Linked DNA regions of Homo sapiens: region 1 is linked to region 2. The links come from fine-mapping of genetic effects on gene expression. A gene starts in region 2. The other region holds a variant in brackets. All regions are shown on one strand. Distances are between the middles of the regions. Region 1 overlaps MXD1 (MAX dimerization protein 1). Region 2 holds the start of MXD1 (MAX dimerization protein 1).

What was found. PIP is the estimated chance that this variant, and not a neighbour inherited with it, causes the effect.
Region 1: its variant is fine-mapped to the expression of MXD1 in whole blood (TOPMed, PIP above 0.99).

Annotation. Positions count from the first base shown.
Region 1 is chr2:69,939,520-69,954,709 of GRCh38, reverse strand. It overlaps MXD1 (MAX dimerization protein 1), which reads right to left. Exons shown (of 6, transcript NM_002357.4): 6 at 11,765-15,190. It also overlaps a transcript of ASPRV1 not described here. Among named protein-coding and RNA genes, the nearest start is that of ASPRV1, 15 kb to the left of the region's middle. RefSeq lists an enhancer at 7,028-8,227. The variant T/C (reference allele first, on the strand shown) is at 9,376.
Region 2 is chr2:69,906,441-69,921,630 of GRCh38, reverse strand. It overlaps MXD1 (MAX dimerization protein 1), which reads right to left and starts at 6,522. Exons shown (of 6, transcript NM_002357.4): 1 at 6,228-6,522; 2 at 5,411-5,510. The coding sequence starts at 6,300. LOC124906176 (small nucleolar RNA U13) reads right to left here and starts at 8,936; the gene lies at 8,832-8,936. RefSeq lists a silencer at 5,919-6,148 and enhancers at 6,799-6,998, 7,099-7,208, 6,691-7,296, 7,309-7,358.

The DNA of each region.
Region 1 (15,190 bases), 33 kb before region 2:
AAAGATGAATGAATGGATGTTTCCCGGGAATATTTGGGGTGGAGGGAGGAAAGGGAAGAAAACAGGGAGGCAAGGACAAGCCTGCTGGTGTTGGCTAACAGAGACAGGAGGAGAAGACGGGGGCCAGCATGGATCCTCTCATATGGACTTTGAGGAAACTCCAGGAGACCAGGGAAGGAGATGCTGCTTTTATTTCAGCTCTAAAATGCACTCAATTCAAAAGTGTGTTTTAAGTTTATTAATATTCTTGGAGGAAACAACCACCACCTCTGCGATGCAAATGTATCTGCCAATGGTATATCTGGATCTAAGAAGCAGTAAAATGGGGAAATGGGGGTAAAATAGAGAAACTACTTGCCTTCTTAAGGACCAGCTCAGACCCATGTGGCTGCCTAGTGGGCAGTGCTGCAAAGGATTCTGGGACTGTATTCAGACACAGCCAGCAAGATGCCATGATTGATTAGTGATGTCTGGCCTGGAAGCAGGAGTGGAAGCTGAGCCCCTGCTTCTTCTGTGGTGGGCCATGAGGAGCCTTCATTCTCAGACAATGGAGAGCCAGGGCAGGGTTGGAGGCAGGGAAGTGACTTGATGGCATCTGCATCATGAGATGCATCTGAACCTCAGTTTACAAACTCATAGATGCTGATGTGAGAGATGTCATTTAAGAAAGTTTTCCATAATTAAAGTGAATTGGCCAGGCATGATGGCTCATGCCTGTAATCCCAACACTTTGGGAGGCAGAGGCAGGCAGATAACCTGAGGTCAGGAGTTCGAGACCAGCCTGGCCAACATGGTGAAACCTGTCTCTACTAAAAATACAAAAAAAAAAAAAAAATTAGCCGGGCATGGTGGCGTGTGCCTGTAATCCCAGCTACTTGGGAGGCTGAGGCAGGAGAATTGCTTGAACCTGGGAGGTGGAGGTTGCAGTGAGCCAAGATGGTGCCACTGCACTTCAGGCTGGGCAACAGAGTGAGACTTGCTCTCAAAAAAGAAAGAAAAAAAAGAAAAAAAAAGAAAATTAAGTCCAACTCTGAGTCCCCATTCAGCCAGGCATTTGAGAAATTCATTCTCAGTCACTTTGGTGAGCTCTTTTTACCCTGGATTGGGGGAAAGGTCCCAGAAACTTATGCAGCAGTGAAGCATTGGAGAAAGAGGACCCTGCAGGTCGTAACTGCCCAGTCGCAGTCACACTGTGTCCATGGAAATGCCCAGCGTCCCTGCACATGTGAGCCCTTCCGGCCACAAAGTTGTGCTGCTTTCTGTGCCATGCACGGGCACAAGGAGGCCCCGTCTTATGTCCTCCCTCTCTAGGGACGCCAGGCACCCACCCCATGTGCTGTCCCGCCACTTGCTTGGAGTGAGGCTGCTGAGAGGTGTGTGGGTGCCAGTTATCCCCAGGACTGACCACTGTCCATCCCCTGTCAAACCAGATCTGCCCTCTGCATATTCCCTTACTCTTCCTGAGACCACCCACAACTCCCTGTCCAGAGCACTGGGTCATACACTGATCCATGGTTTAGGCAGGTACAGAAGATGGGGAAGAAAAGTGTCTTGGGTCTTACACGCAACAGTGGCTTTTGGCCCAGTAAAATGAAAGTCCTGGCTACTTGCCTGAGCTGGGAGAAACAGGAGAAAATCAAAGAGCAAAAGCAGACCTTCATGTTTTCATGTCTCACCCCGCTGTGCAGCCCCTGGAGGGAGGCAGGGCAGAAGGCCTGATGGAGGGAGGTTGCCCTGGGGGTTCTGTGCTGCCCTGGTACGGGCTGAAGGGCTAAGCCAGCTAGTAAGAAAGGGGAACTGATTCCAAAGGTAACATGGAGGACGAACCAACAGGACTTAGGGGCATTTGTTATGGAGGTGAGAGAGGGACAGGTCTAAGGCAGTATTGGCAATGTCTGGGGACATTTTTGGTTGTCACATCTTCCAGGGGATAGGGGATGGGGGGGACTATTGGCATCTAGTGAGTAAAGGTCAGAGGCTGCAAAACATCCTGCAATGCACCAAACAACCCACACAATAAAGAACTATCCAGCCCCAGATGAGGTAACTCACAGCTTGCTTATGTGGCAATCTCTTTTCTCTTTTCATTTCCTTTTCTCCTTTTCTTTTTCTTTTCTTTTCTTCCCTTCCCTTTTCTTTTTTCTTTTCTTTTCTTCCTTTCCCTTCCCTTTTCTTTTCTTTTCCTTTCTTTTTCTTTTTCTTTTCTTACAGGATCTTGCTGTGTCGTGCCAGGCTGGAGTGCAGTGTCACGATCACAGCTCATTGTGGCCTAGACCTCCCAGGCTCAAGCAATCCCCTCATCTCAGCCTCCTGGTAGCTGGGACTATAGATGTGGGCCACCATGCCTAATTTTTGTATTTTTTGTAGAGACGGGGTTTTGCCATATTGCTCAAAATCCTGGGCTCAAGCAATTCTCCCGCCCAAAGTGTTGGGATTACAGGAGTGAGCCACTGCACCCGGCCAGGCAATTTCTTTCTAATTCTCACAAAACATCTACAAAGTAGGTTTTATACCCATTTAGTAGATGGGGGAATTGAGATTGGGAGAGGTTAATTTGCCCAGTGTTGTGTAAATGGTAAGTGGCTGAACTGAGATTGGAATTTAAGCCGGCTTGACTTTGGAGCACTCAATTTAGTTAGCTGGAACAGTTTGGTCAAACAAAGATTTTATTAAAATGAATTTAGGTTGTTTTAATCTATTATAAACAGAGCAAGGCAAGTGGGTGAAAATGAATTTGAAAAGCTGAAGTAACCAACAACTAGGTCTTTGTTAGCTAAGCAGTGTATAAGTTATTAACAAAACTCAAAAACAGTTAACTGTGGTTGGAAATATTCATTCTAAAAATCAATTTATGAAAATAAAAAACTCACCAAAAAAATCATCAAGTAAGTAGAGGAGACATAATTGGCTGAAAATAAACTAGGAGAGAAAAAACCCCTAAAACCCCCCTAAAACTCCAAATCCTCTTTTTTGATTGTTCATTTTTATTGCTTTGTTTATTCTTTCATGGTTCAAATTCCTTTAGTATTTTTTTTAATTGCAAAAGCAATGAGTGAGGCTTGCGGGAAAAGCAGAAACGTTGGTCAGTCTATATCTAGAGCTACATATCATATCTATCTATCTATATATATGTTTATATATAGATATATATATGATATGTATGTGTATATATATGATATGAGTGTGTGTGTATAGATCTATATATATAAATATACATATAGATATACACACACACACACACACACACACACACACACACACACTCACTTTTTTTTTTTTTTTTTTTGAGATGGAGTCTTGCTCTGTTGCCCAGGCTGGAGTGCAGTGGCGTGATCTCGGCTCACTGCAAGCTCCGCCTCCCGGGTTCAAGTGATTCTCCTGTCTCAGCCTCCCAAGTAGCTGGGACTACAGGCACCTGCCACCATGCCCAGCTAATTTTTGTATTTTTAGTAGAGACGGGGTTTCACCAAGTTGGCCAGGATGGTCTCGATCTCTTGACCTCGCGATCTGCCTGCCTCAGCCTCCCAAAGTGCTGGGATTACAGGCATGAGCCACTGCGCCTGGGCCACACACTCGCATATTTTATATACATATATAAGAACCTTGAACCCACTTACCCTGCTTAGGTCAAACACGGTGTATTTTTCCAGACCTTTCTCTATATACACTCATATGAATGTATTTTCTTTCATTCTTTCTCTTTCACTCTCTCGTTCTTGCCTTTTCTTTCTTTCCTTTTAACAAAAATAGGATTACATGGTAATTTCTGTTTTGTAAACTTTCATACTTTACTAAACCAATCCCCTATTTTATTTTTTATTATTTATTTATTTATTTATTTATTTATTTATTTATTTATTTATTTTTGAGACAGAGTCCCACTCTGTTGCCCATGCTGGAGTGCAGTGATGTGATCTCAGCTCACTGCAAACTCCACCTCCTGGATTCAAGTGATTCTCCAGCCTCAGCCTCCAGAATAGCTGGGACTACAGGCGCCAGCCACCATGCCTGGCTAATTTTTGTGTGTTTAGTAGAGGCGAGGTTTTCACCATGTTGGCCAGGCTGGTCTGGAACCCCTGACCTCAAGTGATCCACCCGCCTTGGCCTCCCAAAGTGCTGAGATTACAGGGGTGAGCCACTGCGCCCAGCCTCCCCTATTTTTTAACATTTAGATTGTTTCCAACATTTTGCTGTTATAAACCTCACAGTATGGTAATGAAAAGGAATGTACTGCAACCACACAAGAAAAACGAACGTCACAGTGTTGAATGAAAGAAGTCAGACACAAAACATACACAATATGATTTCATTTGTGTAGTATTCTCAAACAGATTGTCAAACCTAAAGCCCAGGCTTAGAGATGCATTCTTAGGAGGCAAGAGGACAAAGGCAAAAAGGACACGGTTACCCCAGCAGCAGGGTGGCTGTGTCCTTCAGGGCTAAAAAGGGTGCTGTGTTGGGAAGGACACTCAGGTGTACCTGGGGGCCAGTGATGTCCTGGCTCTTCACCAGTTGTGTTTTTTTGGGTGCTTACTTTATAATAACTATTAAACAGCACCTTTATGTTTTATGCACTTTTACATCTATATGTGCTGGCCGGGTGTAGTGGCTCATGCCTGTAATCCTAGCACTTTGGGAGGCTGAGGCAGGTGGATCACCTGAGGTCAGGAGTTCGAGACCAGCCTGGCCAATATAGTGAAACCCCATCCCTACTAAAAATACAAAAATTAGCTTGGTACGGTGGCAGACGCCTGTAATCCCAGCTACTCGGGAGGCTGAGGCAAGAGAATCGCTTGAACCCGGGAGGCGGAGGTTGCAGTGAGCTGAGATCGTGCCATTGCACTCCAGCCTGGACGAAAGAGTGAGACTCTGTCTCAAGAAACAAACAAACAAATACATATGCATGTGCCAAATCATGATAAAAAACATTAAAAATGAACAGAATGAAAATAGTTAACTAAAAAATTAACTAGAAATTTAAAGCCCAGGGTAAAACTAAATATGCCGAAATGTAAGCAAAATACTTGAAAAGGCACAAAACGATGCAATTCACCTTCATGCTGCATTAAAATTCTAATTTTTGAAAAATAATGTGGAGTATACTTTTAGACCAAATTGTCCTTTGGGCTGAATTGTTTCCTCTGCAGCTTGTTCTCAACCAAATTGTTTTCTGTCCAATTGCTTTTGTTTTTGAACCAGTCACCTGGATTTTTCCAAAACCCGGGTATTTTCTGTGGCCCTCACTGTACTGTACAATTCCGATGGTGATCAAGGCCAGTGATTAGTAAAAACCTCACTGGCTGTGTTTCATCACCTCTGCTTGGGGCCATATGATACTGGAGACTCTTGTCCTGCCTTAGCTCTGAGCCTAAAGTTCTCCTCTGTCTCTCTTAAAAAGTGTTAATTCGTTCGTTCATTCGTTCATTCATTCATTCATTCATTCATTCATTCATTCGCCCATCCATCCCCAAGTGGCCATCGCTGAGCACACACAGGCATGGTCCTGGGCATTGGGTCAGAGCCGCAGGGGGCCTGCAGGGTCTGCTCCGGCAGAGGTCCGTGTGAACATCAAGCAGGTAAAATACAAGGTGTCATGTGGTGATAAGAGAAAGTGAAATGCATCACTGCGCGGACAGCGGATAGAAAGTGACCAGGGAGCTGCGATTTTATACAGGTGGAGTCGGGGGTCCTCAAGGACACGGGGACGTTTGCACTGAGACCTGAGTGAAGCGCAGTCCGCCGCGAGGTGCCGGGGGGAGCGGCCAGGCAGGCTCCCCAAGTGGGGGCCCCCAGGTGTCCAGGGAAGAGTGAGGAGAGGGGTGGGGTGTAGACAGGGCCTGATCAGGTGGGGACCCGCCGCGGGGGAGGCCTGAGTGCTGTCAGCCGGACGGCATTCGCGGGAGGGCAGGATTTACAGGGGAGGCGGGGGGCGTGGGCAGAGCGGGAGACAGGGAGAGGACCTCGGAGGCTTCCGTGGGGTCCGGTGGCCCCGGAGGCAGGGCAGCCCCCTCCCTCGGGGCCTCTTCCTGAGACCAAAGGGCTCCACTCTGTAGGAGCAGCCAGCCCCCTTTCCTCCAGGGCGAGCTGCGGTATTCAGCACCGCCCTCCGTGGCTGCAAGCCTTCCCAGCCAGCCCGGAGCCTCCACTGATCCCTCCTAAAGGCATCTGGTCCAAGCTGCCCCCACTGCGGCCTGTCAAGCACTTTTGGATCCTGGTTCTGTCAGGCCCTCAGTGCCATCTGGCAACCACGGGGTCATCCCTAGATGTAGAGAATGTGCCATCCATACCCGACTGCAAATGGATGTATTGACGTTGAGTGGAACAGGCTGAGGACAGTGTCCCCTTCATGCCGCTGGACAGCTTCCTGCCGTGACCTGTCTCTGCTAATCAAACCTTGGTGGGGCCGAGGATGGTGTAATAAAATACTGAAATTTGCAAGCGATTAATTTTGATTGTTTGTTTGAGACAGGGTCTCACTCTGTGGCCCGGGCTGGAGTGCGGTGGTGCAATCGTGACTCACTGCAGCCTCCACCTCCCTGGGCTCAAGCAATTCTCCTGCCTCAGCCTCCCAGGTAGCTGGGACCACAGGCACAGGCCACTACCTCGGCTAATTTTTTTTTTTTTTTGAGAGACGGGGTCTCCCTCTGTCTCTCTGGCTTACTCCTAAAAAATCTGTAACATCCGATTCAAAGCTAGTTCCATAGAACCACTATTCTCATTTACTTGCAATCCAACGAACTTTCTCCAGTTGAGGAGAAAGGGTGGCATTCCTTCCTGTTTCTGGCAGGGGAATCAGACCCAGGTCAGCACTGCCACTGCCTCTGGCCTCTGCGGATATCCCCAAAGGAGCCCCAGTTCTTCTAGACAGGAGGGATTATTTCCAGCCCTGGGGCACCACCCTCCTAGTCCTTGGCAAGTTTGTTTCCATAACCAAACAAACAAACAAAAAAACCAAAAACCCCTCACATTCACCTTCCCTCTCCACACCCTTGACCCCAATAACCTCACTCCTGCTTAGTCAACCTCACTTCCGTCTGCTTGCAAAAGCATTTTTTATTTTACACTGTGATTCCGCATGGCAGTATCCTCTTGTTCTCTACAAAGGTGGATCGGAAGTAACTTCCAAAATTACAAATACTAAAATAGGAAAGATGTTGAGTAAAAGCCAAGGCCAGAGAAGAGACTAAGGGGAAACTGGGTCACAAACATGCACATTACAGGTTCTCACAAAATTACTAAAGGTGAAGTGTGAATTTGGCTCTGAGTTTCCTGACAGCCAAAGGGAGAAGAGAAAGATGATCTGTTGCATGATTCACTGTTTCCCTGAGGTAAACACACCTGTTTTTCAGGGGAAAGCAATGGGATTGCTGCAATGAGTTCCAAAAGAATACTTTTCCCTAACATTATAAAGTGTGGTGACAAGAAAGCAGGGCCAGGTTCCATCCTGATTATCTCTTTACTCTTCCACTGATACCTCTTCTGGGCCACACACTGTTCCATGCCCTGTGCTAGTCTGCATTGACTGGTAGCTTCTTTGACCAAAGTTATTAACTGCAAAGTAGCCAAGAATCATCACAACCTCTGCAGTTGCTCAGAGGTCATACTTGAAGTGTGGAGTTGTCCCCGTCTGGGTAGAGCTCTACCTACGGTTGTTCTGAATTTGCAGTGCAAAGGTACGTGTGAATGCGGGAACTGAAGTCATTTGGCCTCTTCTGATGAGATACTTGCAACATATGGGCATTTTAGCAAGGGCTTCCCTCTGTCTCTCTCTCTGAGCCACCTCTGTATGATCTGGTCTCTCTATGAGAGGAACTGCCCTGTAGGGCTGGCGGGGTCTTAGGGTCGTTTTGACCTTCCGAACAGCACATAGGTGAGATACTACCTGGAAAATAGCCACCCCTCCACTGTCAATGCCCACATTCTGTCCCTGAGTCACCCTCTGCTCCCCCTTTCGGTTTAACCACTTCCTGCCTACTGTTTGTTGTCTAAACAGCACAGTCAGAATGACATATTTGAACACTTCCCCACCCTCTAATGTAATTTTCCCTTCCAAGCTTATTTCTTCTCTGAGTGTTGGAATTTTGTATTCTGAAAATCCAAGTCACATGCCAGACAGTGTTCGAACGTTCTCTCCTTGGCTGGGAAAATGATTATAATTGCTCATATGTACTGAATGCTTTCTGCATGTCAGGCATGGGGAAAAGCTGTTTGCATACTTTACCTTACTTAATCCCCCTAGCAGCCCTGGGAAGTACATGCTGTTATTATCCTCACTCTACAGACCGGGTCAGCAGAGTCCCAGATACTTGCCTGGGGTCACCGAGGGTGTTAAGGGTGGAGTTGGCATCGACCCTTAGCTCCATTTGACCAGAGTCTGTGCACGTGACCATCACCCAGGACCACCTTCCGGGGTACCTAGGGGACATGGGCACTCCCCCTGAGTTTCTATTTCCACTTGGCCAGCCTATTGGTCTCTGTTGGTCATTACTGGCTCGAATGCTTCACAGCAATGGTTTTTTCCGCCTTCTGGGGGATGACAGTATCAGCGTGGCAAGGCGAGTGTGTTGGATGTTCTGCTTGTAACTAAACAGATACTGGTTCTCCCACGCCCACTGGTCCCTGTGCATGGCTGGGGGCTATCTCCAGGTGTCACCCAGCCCGGCTGTCTGGCTGGCCAATGGTGTTGGTTGGCCAGTGCCTTTCTCTCTTTCCCCTATCCCTAAGGCCCTCCCAGGTGCCTTCTCCTCCAGGATGGCTGCTTTCTTTGAAGGCAGACGTATTTCTGACACAGAGCTCCCTGCGTTGACTGTCTTCCTCACCTCTGCCCCCAGGCAAGGCCAAGAGCATCCTAGAAAAGCCCCTGCCCTTTTCTCCAGGGCCTGAGTGGGCCTCTCTAGCTCCAATACCCCCAGTCCACCCGCTCAGACCTGGCCTCAGGTGCATGCCCTTGGCCTCCGTCCTGGCTCTTCCTGTGGTCATCCCTTTGGATAAGATGGTTCGCCTGTCCCATTACATCCCTAGCCTGCCTTCACCAGACACGCTGCCTTCACCCACAGCCGGGGAGGCTCCCGGAAGCTTCAGCCAGTTAGAGCCTGCCCTGCCGTCTGCCTGAAAGTGGGTTAGTCACTCTGTCCCAACACAAAGCTTCCCTTTCCTCTGGGCAACATGTTCAACCCAGCCAGCAGCCAGCAGCCACATCTACCTCATCTAGTCTCCACAAGGACACTCGCAGAGGCAATGACTCCAGAATTCTGCATGGAACAGAGTGGGCAGGGAGCTGCCTCGCCACCCAGTTTGGGCTGAGCCCTGAACAATACTTCCTGCAGAGACCCTGCCTGTGGGACCCTTGGCCACTGGAAGCTGAATGTCCTTTAC[T/C]TTTATATATATTTTAAAATAATTCCAACTTTTATTTTAGATTCAGGGGGTGCATGTGCAGATTACGAGGGTTTGTTTTTCTAGTTTTAGTTTTTTGAGACAGGGTCTCTCTCTGTCGCCCAGGCTGGAGTGTAGTGGTACAATCATAGCTCAAAGAAGCTTCGACCTCCTGGGCGCCCATCCTCCCATCTCAGCCTCCAGAGCAGCTGGGACGACAGGCCTACGTGTCCTTTATTGATGGGAAGGCCTAAGTGGGCAATGGGCCTTCCATAGTCTCTTGGCAGAGAGCCTTGGTGTGGCCCTCCTCATCTAGGTCATAGTGACATCGAAGAGGTGAGTCAAAGCTGCACTGGGTAATGGGGACTCCAGGGCCTAAGTAGAAGTCATGTACGGTAAATACTGGTTGAATAAATAAGTGATGTCACGGGGTTCGCCACCAAGACGACATGGGATAGAGAGAGTGTCTTCCTTTGAGAGCATGCTGGTTTATTCCCACTAGATCCCCAGGAGGATCAGCAGTAGAGGAGGGGGGGTCCTTCTTCACAATAGGCACAGAGGGAAGTTGAGATTGAGAGGACAGCCATGGCCTAGTAATTGTATTGTGAATTCCCATTTTTCTGCTCCACTGTCTGGAATATAAGGTCCCCTCCAAAGAAAATAGGTAGCCTCGTTCAAAGGCTTAAAAAGGAAAAGATGCCGTATATGGAAGACTGATGACAATTTGGCACAGCTCTTGCAAAAATTGGGGCAAGGGAGTGTGGGGCTCAGCAGCCCGGCTGCTGACGCTTCCAGTCCCACCCCTCACTAGCTCTGTGGGTTTGGGGCAAAATGCCTCACTTCTCTCTCCCTCAGCTTCCTTACCTGTGAAGTTTGGATAATGCTAGCGCTCCCCTCCCGGGGCCAATGTGAAGGTTCACGGAGGCCCTGCAGTGGCGCACCCAGCCCTTAGCACTCAGTAAATGTGGGCTGACCCTCGTTATGACATGGGCCCATACAGCATAACAAGTGACATTTTTTCATCCAGCTACTGTGAACAAGTCAGGAAACTTCGGAAATAAGATTTGTCATCTTGTGGGGGAGGCTATTTTATGTGAAAGCTGTCTTTCTAATTATCTACAGTTCAAAGCTTCCTCTCCGCAACCACAGTAAACAAGGGATCCTGATGCTTTAGAGAACGTAGCTTTTGTTGAGGTTGTGACCAATGCACTATTAGGTGGGTTCCATTTGGGGCTTGTCCACAGTGATGGATCCTAGAATCTCACATCCTAAAAGGGCCCAGCTGCCACCCCTACTCTTTGGAGAAAGCAGACAAGGCAGGCCACTTTCCAAAGTAGAAGTACCAGGAAGTTCCTTTTTCATCAGACCTGCAGGCAGAATGCCAATGCAGTTAACTTAAAAACCTTTCAAAAATTTTAGGTGGTTTTTAGAACAAGAAGTCATTGGTCAACAAGGAGAAAGACAACTTTTTCCTCCTCTTGACTCCGAAAAAGTGCTCTCCTGGTGTAACAAAAACAGGAAGACAGACTGCACTTGGCGAACTTGCCATGATGAGGACTTGAGCGCCAATGAGACTCACGCTGGAAAGGTGGCAGCATGAGGCAGGGGTTTGTGTGCTGTTCTTAGATGTGTCCTCACCTCTAGGACGGAGCCTGATATGGAGCAGGTACTCAAGCCGTATTTGTTCAGTGAATGAATAAATGTATACTAACCAGATGGGTTAGTATGTAAAGGAACGGACATCCTCAGCCAATGCCTCTCTCCTCTCAGTGAGTTGTGCAATCCACAAGGTCTTTCCTTTGACATGCCCCAGGTCCAGGCCACACCGCAGCCCCACGAAGCTGGACTCTGCCTGAGCACCTGCCTCACTGCCCTGGATGTTCTCCTTCCCAGCAATGCTCCTTTCCCAGCAAACACTCACTCCTCCTCCAGGGCCCAGCTCGAATGCACCACCTCTAACTTCTCATGGAGCTTTCCCACACAACTTTATTCCACAACTAATTACACTGCATTAAATTGTGTGCATATCTTTCCCAGCAGGCTACAGGCTGCTCAAAAGATGCAGAAGTCTTGGCAGTGCTTACAGCCTGCATCATTAGAGGCACCCAAAACAAAGGGCAAGTCAGCCAAGAATGAGTCAACGAGCAGGTGAAACCAGTAGGTGGGATGATGGGGCAGTGGAGAGGGTGGGACTGTGGCTAATTCTGATCAACAAATGGGCTCAACTGGAGCCACACAATCTCAATCCTCATCACAGGCTCCAAGGGCTGAAAACTTTTAGCTAGTGAAGTTTCCCTTAAATTAAAAGAAAAAAAGAAATCTGATGAACGCAGTTCTGCAAGGACAACCACGAAAGGGTAAATTGTGATACAAAACATCAGAAAGACCAAAATTTCTTTAATAATGAAATAATTTATTATTTGTTAACAGTTGAACAATACAGTTTACATATACACAGCAAAGATTCTCTAAAACATGTAGTAGTTTCTAAAAATGCATGTGCTAACTGTAGTAAAAAGCACCATTCTCTATGATCTTGACACAGGATTTACATTGGCGTCATATTTACATAAAGAAACATCTGGAAACAGAATAGCATACCCTTTCATCTGCTGCTCCCCTGTCAGGCTGTGTGTAGCATTAGGAAGATGGCCCCCCAAAAATGATGGTAACAGCAATATTCCAAGAGCACCAATTCTAGGGATGGGGTAAAGGCAAGTTTGGTTGTCAGGTAAAAGCTAAAATGAAGAATGCTCCCTCAACTTGCCACCCCACAGAGAGAAGAAATCAAAATGTAAAAATCTGGATAAATCTTAACATTGGGTGCCTTATGAATTCTCACTTTATGATTTTGAGAGAAGGTCAAATACTCAATCTCTTCAGCCATTCAATAGCTGAATCTAGCAGTGCCTGTCAATTTCTTCTTTCAGAAGAATCTGAGAAAATCATCCATGTAATATTGATAATGAAAAAAACCATGATAAATCACCTATTGCACACCCCACCCTCTAACCCAGTTATCTTTGAAAGCAAAGCATCCTACAGTCTATAGAGATCAGAGGATGTAGAATGAGAAACCACCTCATCGAAAAGGGTCTTTGGGTTGTCTTCTACCAGGAAGAGTTTTTAAATAGGAGTAGCCAGCTACTAGACACGCTAAACACACTGCATCAGAGTCAAACATAGAAAAAGAATAGATTGACATGCAAGAAATTGCGTTTAGCCTTTTACTACCTGATGTTCAACACTCAGGGAAGGCAAAGGGGGACAGACAAACTTGGGGAAACAAAGAAGAAACAGAAAAGACCAGGATGTTAAAGTCTCCTGTGTGGTTCATGAAAAAATAGAAAATAAAAAAAGACCAAGACTTGGGGGAAGAAATAGACTGTAAAGGACAATGATAGTGGTATTCTCGCCAATACAGTATGGTATAAAAACCTAAATAATAATATGTGTGTGTGTGTGTGTGTGTGTATATATAGATACTTTTCAAAAATAAGTTCTCTCTTGAAAGGATGGGGAAGAGGCAAGAAGAAATAAGCCCACAAAATCTATTCTCAAGCTCCAAGATATTGCTAGATGGTTATTTTGAGCATCACAATCCTACCTAGTTTACACTTTTTTCTTATCCCCCAGGATTTGCTCTTGGCCGCTTTGGGGATGCAGAAGAGAGGCCCATAGGAAACTCAGGTTGAGGCCCCTTTGTTGCTTTTGAAAAAGTAGAGGTTAAAGGAAAATGCCCACCTTAAAAAATAAAAACAAAACAAAACACTCAAGTGGCCAACTGCAGGACGAGGGCCTACTTAATGTTCAGTTCTGAATCAACACTGAAATTATTTTCATCTTAGGTTGACAGGGAAAATCTAGGTCCTGCCTAAAAATGTGATGCATTTTGAATCACTAAACTAGCATTAGGTGTGTGACTACAGAAAGGAGCCAGCAGTTGCTATCAGCACCTTGAAGAATTCAAGATCTCTGCTTAGCAAAAGAAAACCAAAATACAGACGACCTGGGTGCTCGGCCCACCATTCAAAGCCAACAGGGGATGGAAAGCTATGTTTTCAGGATGTTACAGAAGCACACATATATATTTTCCCACTGCATGAAATTAAATTAGACTGCGTACTCTTATTTTTCCCACTTGCGTTATGATGGTATCAATAAGAGTGCAGTTTAGATTTTTTTAGTTTTTTAAAATCAACTTTCACATAAAAATATGCATGTGCCTATATTTATACACATCTGTATTTACGTACAATTGTCAAAGTCTTAAAGGCTGGGGTTTATATCTCTGCCCATCCCCTCCCAACCCCAAAATCCCTAATAGAAAGGTTTTCATCTTGCTTAAAAAGACAAAACAACTAAAAAGACTATAGCTCTTAGCAGTCAGGCTGGTGGATCAGTGAATGAGAGAGGACAAATTGGCGAATCAGGGCTGCCGATCAGCCGCACGGGGCGCGGAGGATGGGGTTGGGGGGATTAGCTGCCTTGGGCTGAGTTTGCTGGTCCTGAAGATTACAGTTTTGGTTAGAGAGAGAAGCCTGTCTAGCATGCTGACTCGGTCTACCTCAAGCTTTGAAAGTAATGTCTAACCCTGCTGCCAGTTTATCACAAGTGCATTAAAAATATAGAGATCTATCAAGTTCCACATTTATATGCAATCAAACTGAAAAGGACCAGACAAACAGTGCAAAGGTCAAATAATTACTGTTTTATATTGGGACAGTACATTTCAGATTTCAACCAAAAGACAAAAATGCAGTTTAACTCAAAGGCACAACAATTGAAACACAGAAAATAATGGCATCTCTTGGATGCCTTATTTCTAAATTAAACAAAGAAGTACACAAATTTTGTTCCCTTCCCTCCCCCAGTGCAAGCCCACAAGCTTTTTCCAAAGTCTTGAGCTTTTGATGCTGTCCCGCATTGTGGACTTGTGAGGCGCTTGGATGTAGCAATGAAACAAAATGCTTGAGAGGTCTAGTGAATGGCATTCAAAAGGGACCTCAAAGTGCAGACATATCTTTTTCAAATATGTTACAGGCTGAACTGGCTCTTTGAACACTATCACTCTGCTTAAATCCAGGAAGCAGGCTTTAAAAATGCAAAAGGCATACAAGTTGTATTTCAGTGCAAATCTTTAGCTGGTTATTGGAAAAGATTCCAAAAATTAAAAAAAAAAAAAAAAAATCCTTTGTGTCACCTGCCCCTCCCCCCACCCAAAGCCAAAATGAAGAAAAGACAGAACAAAACAAAAACAGAAGAATTACAGGTGACTTTGGAATCATTTAGGAATCCACTACTTCCAATCAGAATGTTTAGAAAAATACATTAAAGAATCATTTTTTAAAAAACACAAAAGTAATCTTGCTTTCTGAGACTGCTCTTCGGGTATAGAATGAGCTTCCGTGTGGAGTGCGTTTGAACTTTGACCTTAGCTGTGTGCGAGGTGCAGGCGCTGGGGGAGCTTCAGGCTGTGGTGTGCGAGTGACCGCAGGGGAGCGTGGGGTGGCTGCCCGCTGCCGAGTCAGCCGTTGAGCCCTTAGGTCGCAGTGCGTCCGTGGATTTTAGTAATGTTCTCATCACTTTGTGACACACTCTGCTTCAGCATCACAGATTTTACAAATGGTTCAAATTCAATGAAAAAGATTCGCCAGAGGCTGAAAACATCAAGACCTCAAAAATATGAATGCAAAAATATTCAGGGGAATGAACTAATTTTGTAGATACCTACATACAAAGTTTCTAGAACATCTATAAAACCACAAAGTCATAAGAATTTGTTTTCCATTACATTAGTTTATATAAAATGAATAAA
Region 2 (15,190 bases):
GAGATGTAGAAAGGCAGAAAAATTCACTGGGCTCTACTAAAAAAATTAGTCCATTTGAAGAGTTAGATAAATGTAAATCCTAAAATAGAGTTCAAGGTAAAGCGACAAACCAAGAAGCATGCCTTCTCTAGTGGAAAAATAATCCATTTTAAGACAAGAAATAAAAGGGGTCTATTTATACAAAAACAGCTGCACGATGCAATGTGAATTTGCGTTATATAATACGACAAAGCTTTCTGTAGGCTAAGGGTAGAACAGGGGAGGTAGCACCCCTACCCCACCCCTGCAGTTTTCCCTAGGGGTAGCATACACCAAAATTTTGTGTAAAGTTGCTTGACTATATTGTTTTAAATAGTAAAATAACCCCCTTCCCCAAACTTCTGACTCCCTGAAGTAACTATCATGTACAAGATGCTACTGTTAAATAGCAACCAAATGATTTTAGGAAGGGGTTTCCAAAGTTCAGCTCAATATAAAGATGATAGGTTGCTTAAAGCAGAAGTTAGTGAAATGTGAAGTCCAGCTTTGCCACTGATATACTGTGGAATGAATAAAATTCTTTACCATCCTGTTACTGGTTAACCTGTCTATAAAATGAGAATAAAAATAATTACGAATTATTTACTGAACAAGTATGGACCAATGAGGTAACAGCTGTAAAACTGATTAGAGAGCCTTGGATGAAAGGTGTGATGGATATGAAACCATATGATTAGTGTATTTATGGCTGACCTTAAAGACAAGGTCTGGCCTAAGACTTTATGGACAAGTTACCATAAAGTCATAAGAAGTCAATGTGGCCCCTTTAGTGTCCTCCTCACACAACCCCTTCCTAACCAGTTATAAATTTGGAAGAAGCTACCAGTATTATAAAGGAGCTGAATCTTGCTTGACCTTTCTATGAAAATTCTCTAGAATTTAACCAGCTCAGGAGTTTACTCCCTGGTTCAGCTCATGAATTCTGTGGGGCCATAATCAGCACCTTACTGGGCTTAGGAAATAAATTCTCACAGCAATCATGGAGGAATACCACCTCAAGAGTGCTCAGCCACTCATTTACATCAGGGGCACCAACATCAAGTTCACTCATCAGAGAATGGGGGTAAGGAGAGTGAATGTGGGGGGATGGCAGCGGAAGTGAGGAGGTTGTCTTGAAATGAGAAATTTCCAACCTAGCATTAAACTTCTCTTTCACAGGGATCTTAGGAATCAATTTTTATTCACGAAGAAAAAATAAATGAGAAAATGACAGTATTTTAAGTTTAGAATATTTGTTTTCTAGGTAAACAATATATGGACCTCATGTATTCAAACCAATCCAAAATTGGTTAACTTAAAAGTTTCAGGCTAGGCGCAGTGGTTCACATCTGTAAGCCCAACACTTTGGGAGGCCGAGGCAGGCGGATCATGAGGTCAGGAAATTGAGACCATCCTGGCCAACATGGTGAAACCCTGTCTCTACTAAAATACAAAAATTAGCCGGGCGTGGTGGCGCGTGCCTGTAATCCCAGCTACTCCCTTGAACGAGGGAGTTGGAGGTTGCAGTGAGCTGAGATCGTGCCACTGCACTCCAGCCTAGCGACAGAGGGAGACTCCATCTCAAAAACAAAACAAAACAAAACAAAACAAAACAAAACAAAACAAAACTTTAAAATGGTCAGGCATGGTGGCTCAGACCTGTAATCTCAGCACTTTGGGAGGCTGAGGCAGGAGAATTGCTTGAGCTCAGGAGTTGGAGACCAGTGTGGGCAACACAGCAAGAGCCCATCTCAATTAAAAAGAAATAAAAGCTTTACACTGATTCACTTGGTTATCCCTCAGCATTCTCCAGTCACATTGTTCTGAAGGTTTATTGCCTTCAATGGCCAACAGGATACTATAGTTAACAAGAATCTGGCATATACTGCAAACCTTTGGCTCTAAAGCACGTGGCATTTTAACTTTAACCGGGACTAGTAAGTTCAAAGCCTGACAGATTTTTTTAAATGGATGAAAGTAGATGGGCATAGTGGGATCCCAGCACTTTGGGAGGCTGAGGTGGGTGGATCACTTGAGGTCAGGAGTTCGAGACCAGCCTGGCTAACCTGGCGAAACCCCGTCTTTACTAAAAATACAAAAATTAGCCAGGCATGGTCACATACGCCTGTAATCCCAGCTACTCGGGAGGCTGAGGCAGGAGAATCACTTGAACCCAGGAGGTAGAGGTTGTAGTAAGTCGAGATGGTGCCACTGCATTCTAGCTTAGGCAACAGAGCGAGACTGTCTAAAAATAAATAAATAAATAAAATAAAATGGATGAAAGTATATGCCAACAGTTGGTTGAGATTACCCTCTTTAACTGTAGACAAGGACCACCCCTTGTAGGTGGAGGAGAGGAAAGTGAATAGGTTGAGAAGAGAGTAGAAAATAACAGCACACAGGAAATTCTTACCAAAATATTTCTGGATTCTTTGAAAATATATAAACTAATAAATAGAGTTATATACTTATGCAAAATTCTGAATCCCCAAAATAAACTTTTAAACAAACTCCATAGGAAGCACAACTTCTTCCAAAATTTGAACAAAATTTTTAAAACTACAGATTTTATTTGATTACTCGAGTGTTAAACACATGGTGCTTTTTAAAGGGGGACTTGTACTTAATGGCTAGAGCATTACTGAAGTGCATCTAGTTTACTGAAACTGAGTTATTAATAAAAAGCAGCCCTTTCAAAAATGATCAGTTCCGAGACTGCCAGCCACCTCCATTGATGGGTAAACATTTACGTTTTTAATTAAAGCACTGTAAGAACACACTGATACCTTGTGTCAAAACTATTTTCCATGTGATTATGGAAAACAATGGATAACTCTGGAATCACTGATAAAGGTCAAATTTCACCATTTAAAAATACACTCTAATAAAAAAAAACTAAGCCAAATTACGGCGTATCTGAGATAACCAGGAAAAATTCTTGGGTTCAAAAACACTCCTCATGTCAGGTCACTCTAGCCACTGTCTTATAAAACAACTGGGTGGCAAGTCCTGAACTTCCTCTTTCACGTGAGTGCCAAAGCTTGCTTTACTCATTGAACAAAACACACTTTTAAGAAGTTCTAGATTTCAATTCTAAATAATTAGTAATTGACTTCAAAAATCAGTAGGAAAGAAACTTCCATCTTCCCATATTCCAGCAGTTCTATGGATAATTTCAAAAACAATTGATATTCACAATTTCATTTTCATTTTTGTTGTTTTAATAAGCAACTAGAGAAACGTGAATAAGATCTGCATTTTCAGTTCCCAAGAAGTTTCCTATGTGGCAAAATCTTATCTTTTATTGTCCAAGGAAAAGTACTTCCCTAGACTCTACAAGCAAAAAGCACAGCATTTCAACCTGTAAGAACAAGAATAAACTGTTATCCAAGGGTTATGTAAACCAGCAGTAATCTCTCCCTATCCTTTACCTCAGTTCAAAATTCTGACCATACATGGCTGAGGATATAAAGCCGATTCAAACCATGGGGTCAAGCTGCTTTCTCCATTATGATTGCTTGTTCCTCAGAAAAGGAGCTATTCCAAATGAGTCATGAAGGAAATGATCACACTGAAAGAAAACTGCCTGCTCTTGCCTCACACGTTTGGCTGGTGCTACCTCTAGGTTTAATCATGGTCTCTCAGAAATCCTTACACCACTGAATATATTACACTAACTCACTATCAGTCAGGTGTATGGACAACTGTGATAATCCCGTCTCTAACCATGGAAAGCAAACCAACCCATTAACAGAAGGATTTGTAGCCTTTATTTTTTTTTTTTTGGCATAGTACTGATTATTAAAGAGAAGATACTAGAAAGAATCCATTTCTTGGCTTAAGATTCTTAACTACTATTATTTTTCTTTCCTAATCACCTTTTGGGACCAAGCCACTTCAACATCTCATTTTCTTATCCCCACTAGTGAACATCCCCTACAACCTTCCTGTGAAACTAAGGAAAAAAACAAAGTGTTAAGGTATTAAGCCTCAATAAGTAACTTGGACAATTCCTCTCAAATCATTAGTGGACAATAATAAAAGCAAAAATGGATGATGCTTTTCCAGAAAAATTAACTGAAAGGCCTCAAAATTCTTCTAAACAAAATTAAAAAAATATTGTAACAAAATGCAACACAGCTTAATTGGTTTTACACCATTGCATATTACAAGTCAGTATTAACATCTTTCTTAAAGTGCCTTCATACCCATGCACAAAACTACTGGCTACCACCTTCAGGTAATGCTAAGGTGGGAGGACAAGCAAAACCTACCAGGTAATTACCAGGTTGATCCTTCAAGTGCCATTTTTATTCAAGGGCATGGCACAAGTAATGCTGCTCACATCCTGTGGTTCCACTAACGATACTAAAGAGGTAAACCAAGTACAGAAGACGCAGCAAGAACAAGTGATTTTTAGGTTTAAGTGGGAAATTCCTGGTCTGTATTAAGCCACAGAGGATATCCAAATAGATACTTGCAAGGAGTTATTCATGAGGGTGAGGGAGGGATAAGGATTCTAAACTAGTGACGAAAAGGTCAATGCTTTTAATTTACTGGCAGGAAAGGTATAGTTGAAGGGATCTAATAGAACAAATTTCCTAGCCAACTATATTTTAAGGGCAAAGAAGGGGGGAAACGGGCAGCAACATTGATGGACTATTTGCATGTACCAGAAACTATGCATAGGACTTTAATATGTGATTTAACTGACCATGAACCAAATCTCCAGTGAGATTCACAGCTTTTAAGAACTACGGTATAAGATAATCGATAAGGCTAACATGGAAAAGTTGTAGCATATTAATATTTTGGTATTATATATTCCTCTATCACTAAAGAGGTAGGTTTTAACCTCAATCATTCCTCTTTGCCATTACAAATAGAGATGACAAATTAGAGTATCAAACAAACCACTGTATTTAATTTACATGTCAAGTATGAGATCCTATCACTTATGCCAAGTCAGGTACTTTAATGTGTTTATAAAATCATTACTATGAAAAGTAAAAGAAATGGATAATGTCCAGCATTTTGACTTATAGAAAACTTGCCCTGAATCTGCAACTTCTGAAGGGAAAATACTGTCACCATTGCTAATCTCACTTGAAGCTTCCACAGATTTTTTTGTTCCAAAAGGGAAGAAAAGTGAAATTAAATTTTGAATAAAGTTCATAAAGAAATGTAAAACATTTCTATTTTTCTTTTCAGTTCCCTCAACCCAAACAGAAACAGCTTCCTGCAATGGCTTAAGTCCATGTGTACATTACTGAATCATGACGGCCACAATGTAATTTTATAGGGTTATAATCACAACAGAAAACTTACATTCAGCAGTTTGTGTCACCTACAATATAATCTAAAAGACAGAAAGAAGTATTTACCAAATTACCTGCTACTGCTGTTATTCTTTTTGGATTTGTTCCTCCGTTTTAAGGCATCTCTGTCCTTGTTATTGTATGGTAACATGGAGGCATAACCATGTTCAGCTTCTAGAAAACAGGAGGATCCAGTTAATGAATGGGCCCAGAATATTTAATGCTCTCTCCTCTCTACAGTATTTCCTTTTTCCTTTATTTATCTTTAAAAGAATATTGTGGAAATAATTAAATGGAGTAAGGTGGAATTCTGAGAACAATGATTTAAAAAAAAATTGTGTGAATATCGTCAATTCGGAGCAGGTGTAAGGAGGATTCCAGCTGCTCATTGTTGAGAAAGACACAGTAGTGGCTAGGCTCACGCAGCCTGGGTTTCCCACTGGCTACATCCAGCAGGTTGGTGCGGGTTAAGTGGAACCAGCTCAGGCGAAGGTGCGGGGCAAGCACCGTGAGCCGGGGACCGGGAGGCGCTGCTCCTCTGCCCAGGAGACTGGGGCGCCGGGCCCACCTGGGGGCCGGCCGGGACCAGCCCGGGTGAGGTAAACCAGGGAGGCTATCGGAGGGGGCCCCGGCCACCCACTCGTGAAGGGCTGGGGAAGGGGCGGCGTTCGGGACCCCGGCGGGCGGCAGCCCCTTCTCCACCCCATTCATTGCTTTGGGGCAGCGGCGGCTTCCCTTCGGACCGCGCGTGGGGAGAGCCAGAGGGGTTGGGAGCGCTCGCGGTCTCCCCGCCTCCAACCACCCCCGGAGCGGCTGGGCGCCCGGACCTGAGGCCGGCCCCACAGGACCCCCGGCCTCGTTTCGAGTGGACCCCTCCCCGTCCCCGTGCACCTCTCTCCCGCCGCTCCAGATAGTCGGCCGCCTCCAGCAGCATCTGGATGTTCATCCGAACCGCCGCCGCCATTCTGCACCGGGGGCCGGAGCCACGGGACCAACCCCCACTGCCCACGGGCTCGCTGCCGCCGCCGGACCGCTGTGGAGCCCGCTATGGAGCCCGCTGTGGAGCCCGCTGTGGACCCCGCGGAGCAGGGCTGAGGGAGCCTCTCTGGCAACCACGCTCGACAAGAGAGGGAGGGGGCCAGTGAGCTGGGCACCGCCGACACAGTGACAGAACCCGGAGCAGAGCAGCAGCCGCCACCGCCGCGGAGTGTTTATCCCCGACTCACCATCTCCCCGCCCCCAGCCCCTTCTCTTGACAGGCCAGCTTCGGCCGCGTTCCTCATTGGGCCCCCCAAAGAATGCCCCGCCCCTACACTTGTGCGATTGGGAGAGGGCTTCAGGGCTCCACCCCGCAAAGTCCGCTCCTCTCGCTGGTTGGTCACACTTGACAAGGCCCGGGCTCCACCCCCTCTTTCCAACTGGTGACAGGATTCGCAACTCCGCCTCGTGCTCCTTCCTTGTTTCCCATTGGTTCTATACCAACAACCCGGGCCCCCTTTTGCTTTGTTAGTATTGGCCAAGAGCTGCAGAAGGCAAGCACCTCGCCGGTCTCCCATTGGTGAAGCCTTCGGAAACCTCCCAGCTACGATGATGTCACCTTTCTCCAGGCCAGGCGAGCCCTAAGTGGCTGATGGTCAGCAGCCTGGCTGCTCCTCACCGGGTCTGGCATTGGCTGGGAGGGCCGGTCCGGCGCTGGGCGGCGCTGATTCACCAGCCGCTGCGGAGCTCTGCTCCACCCGGCCTTGCCTCGGACCTGTTGCCAAGACCTGTCCCCGGGGAAAACTTCCGGGGACCTGCCAGGCGTCCATCGAATGGAAGGCTGGCACCTCGTGTCGCCTGGGCGCTCTGCCCCGCTTGGGTTCGGGGCCGGAGCCCTCGGTCTGGTGGCCGCGGCCCTGGAGGTTCTGGGCTTCGCGGAACTCGGGCTGGCGAGGGCCCAGCCTCGAATCCTCCCGAAGAGCGGTGCAGGCTAGTGGCCGGTGAGCCGGGAGCTAGGGCAGGCGCCACGTGGCTGCTGCGGGGCTTGAGAAGAAAAGCCGGCCGTTGTTAAATGCTCGCCGCTCGGCGTTTTTTCTGCCCTCAAGAAAGAGCTGGAATCGGGCTGCAGTATACAGCATTGAGCTCATGCGCCTTTTCCGCACCCCCCTCCACCCCCGGGAAGTGATGGAATAATTAATTACTTTCACGCGAGCGGCTTTTTAAAGCTCAGAGACTTCCTGAACCTACAGAATGGCATTAAACCCTAAGATTCTTTGCTTAAATCTCTTTTGGGGTTTTCCCCTCCCTTTTAATTCTAGATGAAAACACTCACAAGATTATTGTTTTTGTTTGTTTGTTTTGAAAGGGAGTTTTGCTCTTGTCGCCCAGGCTGGAGTGCAATGGCGCGATCTCGGCTCACTGCAACCTCCTTCTCCCGGGTTCAAGCGATTCTCCTGCCTCAACCTTCTGAGTAGCTGGGATTACAGGTGCCCACCACCACGCCCGGCTAATTTTTGTATTTTTAGTAGAGACGGGGTTTCACCATGTTGGCCAGGCTGGTCTCGAACTCTTGACCTCAGGTGATCCACCCACCTCAGCCTCCCAAAGTGCTGGGATTACAGGCGTGAGCCACCGCACCCGGCCAAGAATACTCTTTAAGACGTCTGCAAATTGTGTGTTTCCGCATGGGGTGGTACCAATATAAATGCTTAATAGAATGTTACGTATACAGAACTAAAAAGGTTAAAGATCGGTCCCTAAACCTATTAAAATTTTTGAAATGAAAGCTATCTGGCAAACCAAGCTACACTGCCAATGTACTGACAGACATCTCCAATTTTAAAAGTAGAAATAAAGTTCTTGGTAGGTTGAGTCCCCAAAATACAAATGAGTAAAGCATGAACATATTTCTTTTTTTAAAAGTTTATTATTGTTGCCAATATATAATAGCTTACTATGTGTAGGTATCCTACCTACATTATCTCTAATCCTCAATATAACCCCATGAGGTAGGTTGTGTTAATTACATTTTGCACGTGAAGAAACTGAGGCCCAGGGAGGCTAAATGATTTTCCCTGTCATGCATTCAGCTGCAGACATGGAAACTGAACCTATGTATGTCTCACCCAGAGCCCAAATTACCAATCCTCCTGTTGGTAGTTGTATAAAGACAAGGTGGTTTAAACAGATTTCCAGACTGAGTCACAAAACACTGACAACTCAAGTACTGAAGAAAAAGAAAGACAAAGGTGTAAATGTAATTATGGTGGGAAATATTAAACATGTATTTTTTAATGTCCACAAACCCACTAAAATTAAATCAACTCAATAAATAGAATAAACATGTAGTAAATCATGCCTGACATATAGGCATATTCTGGTTTCAGTGGTTAACTGGATCTAAAAACTGATTCTTTATGAAAATACTAATGAAATACACATACTGAAGGTAAAGGTTTTCAAAGCACAATACAAAGTTGGAAATGAAGGTAGAAATATAACAGTTTTTTTTCTCCATATCAGACAGGTAATGTACTAACGCTGTAACAAGCTCTTTGGGAGGCACATCTCATACATGCAATGGGAACACCTAATTACTATGTTTATGAACTATAAAAGGATCTAAGTTTTAAAAGAGTATTTTTAAATTGGATGTTATTTGTAAAACAAACTTCAAAATCATAAACGAGTGCAATTCTACTAAAGTACCCAAAGTGATAATACTAAAAATGCTTTGATTTCATTATCCTGACATTTTGGATTTTGTATATATTTATATTTTCTCTTTAATTTTATTACAAACATTTGGCATATGTCTTTAGTCTCTTACTCTCAACTCTTTATTTTAACCAAGTCCTATTTCAGTATCATGACCCTTCCTCTACAATCACCCTGACCAGAAAGTCACACTTATTTTTGTCTTAAAAAGGGGGAAAAAAGGTTGAAATCTGAGCCAGAAACAGCAAATAATTTAAATGCCAACAAGTCTAGCTTAGACTCCAAACAAAAATACTACATTATATAAAAATTAGAGAATCAGCTGAAGAATAGACCATGTTCGTTCCTTGGTGGTGGATGAAATTATCAATTAGCCAGCAACACCAACTAGGGATTAGTATAATGAAGACCTTCAAAGGGTGTTTGGTGCCATCTACTGGAAATGAAGTAGTAAGTATAAAACAAAGGTTTTGAGATTCGGAGTTTTCCTAGAAATTATTTTACACAGATGTATGGAATGACCAGTTAATTAAGAAAACCTGAAAGTATAAGTTTTGAAGAAAGAACTGAGAATCCTAAGATAATGAAGAAGTGGTGACTTTCAATACCTAGTGCCTCAAAGGCATGGCCTAAGCATTGACTGACTGAGAGTCACAGCTCCAGAAATAGAAGCTGGGAATTCTAGAATGTTTGAACCAGAATTTTATGACCAGAACTTTAAATAAAAAGTTATGTGTAATAGCATAAACATGGGATGACAATAGTTTATATCTTTGAGCACATATCAAGATAAACTAATTGAGATATATACTTGAAAATGGGGAATTACAAAGACATAAAATATTAGACTTGTCAGATAATCTTTACTGCCAAGTTAATCTCTGCCCAGTCTCCTCTGGGAGGCTTATACTCCAGATGGGCATAGGACAGTATATTAAGAGGTAAATGCCAATACTGAGCAAGCAGCAGGCTCATCACACACTATGGAGTTCTCTGCCGGAGATGCCGCTTCAGAGAGCACCCCAGAGTGGCAGGGAAGAAAACTGTTACCGTATTATAATCCTGAAGTGCCTAAAAAGTTCTATCACTATGGGAATTAAAGCCCCCTATTTATAACTGAGTTTGATACCTCCTAACTACTATGACATTAAAATATATTTTGTCTTATAAGGTTTTGAGGAATTGATTTTGTTCCTCGAAGCAGATAAATCAGGATTTCAAGTTTCTGGTTCAACAGTATCATCTCTTTCTTTGTGGCTATTTTGGACACACTAATATGATACCTAACATCATAATATTAAATTTTAAAAACCTTTAAAAACACTGTTTTGCAAAAATTAGTCACTCTACAAATCTGTGATTTAGAAAATGAGGCAACAGCCAGGGGCCGTGGCTCATGCCTGTAATCTCAACACTTTGGGAGGCTGAAATGGGAGGATCACTTGAGCTCAGGAGTTTGAGACCAGACTGGGCAACATAGTGAGAACTCACCTCTACTCAAAAAATAAATTAGCTGGGTGTGGTGGTGCAGCCTGTAGTCCCAGCTACTTGGGAGGCTGAAGCAAGAGGACTGCTTGAGCCCAGGAAGTTGATGCTCCAGTGAGCATAATTGCACCACACAGCACTCCAGCCAGAGCAGGTAAACAAACAAACAAACAAAAAGGCAATGGCTAAATTGTCATATGTATATCACACAAAACACTATGCAGCAGCTTTTTAAAAGGTAGATTTATATATACTGTCAAGAAAAGATCCCTAAGGCACAGTGTTGAGTAAATAGATTGTAAAATAACCCTTACAGCATTTTCTTTTTAAAGGCCCAAACTATGTATTTTCCCAATTTCCTACTCTGCTATATACATACAGGCATGGACAAAAGATACAAAGCAAAGGATTAGCAGAAAGAATGGGCAATATCATTCTGAGTACTGTTCGAAAGGAGTTTAGCTTTGTCACGATGTTTTAAGACTGTTACAAGAAAGACGCTTGCCACAAATGATATTTCCTAAAAGAAAAAAATGTAATATTTAACTTTTCTTCTGTTGAGGCAAGATAAGTCAACTGCATATATCATAAATAAGATTTTCTTACTTTACAAGAAGGAAGAACTGAGATCCTGTTTTTTGAATGCAAGTTAAATACAAAATAAAGTACTTGGGTAACTAAAGGTAATCAGATGTAAAATGAAGATCAAGGGACTAGGTTAGTGAAAAAAGGTTACAGAACTATATTCACAAATTCAAGACATGGGTTGAGCGTTGCACTCTGTGCCAGCCACTGTGTGGTGCTGGGGCTGCAGAGCTAACCAAAGAGATCCCCCACTTCTCCGAGCTCACTGTCTAATAGAAGAACCAGACGTAATAAAAGAATATAGGGTATGTCAGGCAGTGATAAATGCGGTGAAGACAAGTAAAGGAGGGCTTGGAGAGCCACACGGAGAAACTGGAACCCTCATATATTGTGGATGGGACTGTAAAATAGTGCAGCAGCTTTGAAAGACAGTTTGACAGTGCTTTATGTTTAAGTTAAACATAGTTTCCATGACTTGGTAATTCCACTCCTAAGCATACTCCCAAGAGAACTGAAAACATGTTCATACAAAAACTTGTATACAAATGTTCTGGCACCATTCTTTCTTTCTTTCTTTTTTCTGAGATGGAGTCTCACTCTGTCACCCAGGCTGGAGTGCAATGGTGCAATCTCTGCTTACTGCAACCTCCGCCTCCTGGGTTCAAGCAATTCTCCTGCCTCAGCCTCGCAAGTAGCTGGGATTACAGGCACACGCCACCATGTCTGGCTAATTTTTGTATTTTTAGTAGAGACAGGGTTTCACTATGTTGGCCAGGCTGGTCTTGAACTCCTGACCTCAAGTGATCTGCCCACCTCGGCCTCCCAAAGTGCTGGGATTACTGGCATAAGCCACCACACCCAGCCATGGCACCATTATTTCTTAATAGTCAATAAGTGAAAACAACTCACATGCCCATCAACTGATGAATTATAAACAAAAATGTGGTATAACTATAGAATGGAATATTATTTGCAGACAAAAAAGAATGATGGATGTACTGATACATGCTACAACACAGAGGAACTTTGAAAACATTATGCTAAATGAGAGAAGCCAGACACAAAAGGCTACATGTTGTATTATTCCATTTATATGAAATGTTCAAAATAGGTACATCTGTAGAGACAGGAAGTACATTAGTGGATTCTAGGGGTAGGGGGATGAGGAGTGATTATTAATGGATATGAGGTTTCTTTCTGGGGTTATGAAAACATTCTGGAATTAGGAATGATGGATGCATAACTCTGAGTATATTAAAAACCACTGAATTGTAAGCTTTAGAAGGGTAAATTTTATGGCATATAAATTTTATCTCAACTTTTTAAATGTTAAAAAAAAAAAGAGTAAAGCAGAGTACAGAGACAGGGAAGAAAGTTTCCTATTTTGGATAGGGTGATCAGGAATGACCTTAGTTTGAGCAGAGATCTGAACAATGTAAAGAAGCTACTCGTGCAAATCGGGGAGGTGGGGGAACATTCCAGAAGGAAGAAAGAGCAAGTGAGAAGACTCTGGGAGTAGACACAAGCCTGTTTTGAAAGAACAGCAAGGAGGCCGGCCAGTGTAGCTCAGTGCAGTGAGCAAGAGTGAGGCTGTAGAAAGCCAGGGTCTAGGTCATATGGAGGCCCTGTAGACCACACTGAGGACTGGACTTTATTCTAAATGATTTAAAAAAATCACTGGAGCCAGGAGCAATATGACTAGTTGCACATTTAATTAATTAATTAATTTAGAGACAAAATCTCGCTCTGTTGCCCAGGCTGGAATGTAGTGGTGAGATCTTGGCTCACTGCAGCCTCCGCCTCCAGATTTCAAGCAAAACTCCTGCCCCAGCCACCCGAGTAGCTGGGATTACAGGTGCATGCCACCACGTCCAGCTAATTTTTGAATATTTAGTAGAGATGGAGTTTCACCACATTGGCCAAACTGGTCTCAAACTCCTGACCTCAAGTGATCCGCTGGCCTCAGCCTCACAAAGAGCTGGGATTATAGGCAGGAGCCACTGCGCCCAGCCTTGATGTACATTTCAAAAGGTTCCTCTCTGATACTGGATGGAGAATAAACAGGCAGCAAGAGTGGAAGGAGGAAGACTTGTTAGGAGGCTACTGCAGTAGTCCAGGCAAGAGAGATGGCTTAGGTTAGCACAGGTGGTGAAAAGTGGTCAAATTCAAAATGTACTCTGACGTTAAAGCCAAAATAATCTGCTAATGAATCAGATGTAAGGCATAAAATAAAAGAGTCAAAGATGGCCCCAAGGACCATGGTCTGAGCAAAGGAGTGAATGAAAGGGCCATTTACTATGATGGGAAAGCCCCAAAAAAGAAGACTGGGCAGAGTTCTGTTCAGTTAATCTTAAATTTGAGGTGCCTAATAGTCTAGTTGCATATACATGACTGTAGTTCAGTAAAATGGTCCGACAGGAAGAGTATAAATTTGAGAGAGATGGCAGAAGGTGTTTGAAGCCACACAAATGGACACTTCACCAAAGAAGAGACTAGAGAGTCCAAGGACTGAGCCCTGGAGCACTTAACATTTAGACACTTAGAAAACTTGGCTCAATTTACATCCCCTATGAGGATGAGCCTCTTAGAGGAAGAATACAAGGATGCTGCACTTTGGTTATTCTTCCAGAATTAGATGATCTAATGGATAAAAAGTTCCTTCAAACCAAGACTTTTGGGATCAAAGGTATCTTTTCTCGATTTTTCAAAGATTTCCTCTTCTTCTATTTCTTTAGTGTTAGCTCACAGACAGCAGATCTGTTGACCTACCAGATTCTCTCAGATTATTTATCTGCAAAGTATGCTGCCTTAAGGACTTCAAGTCAAATCTCTAGTAACACAACACCAATAAAATGATAAGGCAGTACTTTGGTTTGGAGTATATTATTTTATCCTAGAAGATTTGGCTTCACTATTAAGACAACAATTAGGTCTGCTTTTCTTAGGTATACACAAAAATAGAAACAGTCCTTATGATGGATTATTTACAGATATATAGTATTTTGGTGGGTAGAGGCATGGGGAACTATTTAGCTCAGCTGGCAAAAAGTCCAAGCAAAACAATCCAAATGCCTAGAGTGGTGACAGTTGTGCAATGGGTACTTCAAAGCTGTACAACATTCAAATACTTAAACATTGAAGGCAGTAGGTAGAATAAACATCAAGAGTTTCTGCCTTTATGCTGAATAGCATTAGCTTTCTCATCTGGGAAATGGGAGATGGTAGTACCTGCTCTATTTATCTCATAAGGATTAAGTGAATCAAGGTGCTCTGCACCCTGTAGCATGCAATGCAGTCATTATCATTATTATTTTCTTTACAGGGAACTAACGTGCCAGGAAAGCTTTCAAAGAACTAAGTAGGCCAGGCATGGAGGCTCGTGCTTGTAATCCCAGCACTTTGGGAGGCTGAGGTGGGTGATCACCTGAGCTCAGGAGTTCGAGACCAGCCTGGCCAACATAGTGAAACCCCATCTCTACTAAAAATACAAAAATTGAGGCTGAGCACGGTGGCTCATGCCTGTAATCCTAGCATTTTGGGAGGCCGAGGCAGGTGGATCATGAGGTCAGGAGATTGAGACCATCCTGGCTAACATGGTGAAACCCCATCTCTACTAAAAATACAAAAAATTAGTCAGGCGTGGTGGTAAGCGCCTGTAGTCCTAGCTACTTGGGAGTCTGAGGCAGGAGAATCACTTGAACCCGGGAGGTGGAGGTTGCAGTAAGCTGAGATTGCGCCACTGCGCTCCAGCCTGGGTGACAGAGCGAGACTCCATCTCAAAAAAAAAAAAAAAAAAAAAATTAGCCAGGCATGGTGGCATGCACCTGTAGTCCCAGCTACTTGGGAGGTTGAGGCAGGAGAATTGCTTAAACCCAGGAGGTGGAGGTTGCAGTGAGCCAAGATAATGCCACTGCACTCCAGCCTGGGCGACAGAGCAAGACTCTGTCTCAAAAAAAAAAAAAAAAAAAAGAACTACAATAGGTGGTCAAATTTCAGATGCAATAGGATTTAAAAATCTAGTTAAAGATTTGTAAAAGGTACATGCAAGGATAACCATTACAGAATTGCTTAAAGTAGCAAAATATTAG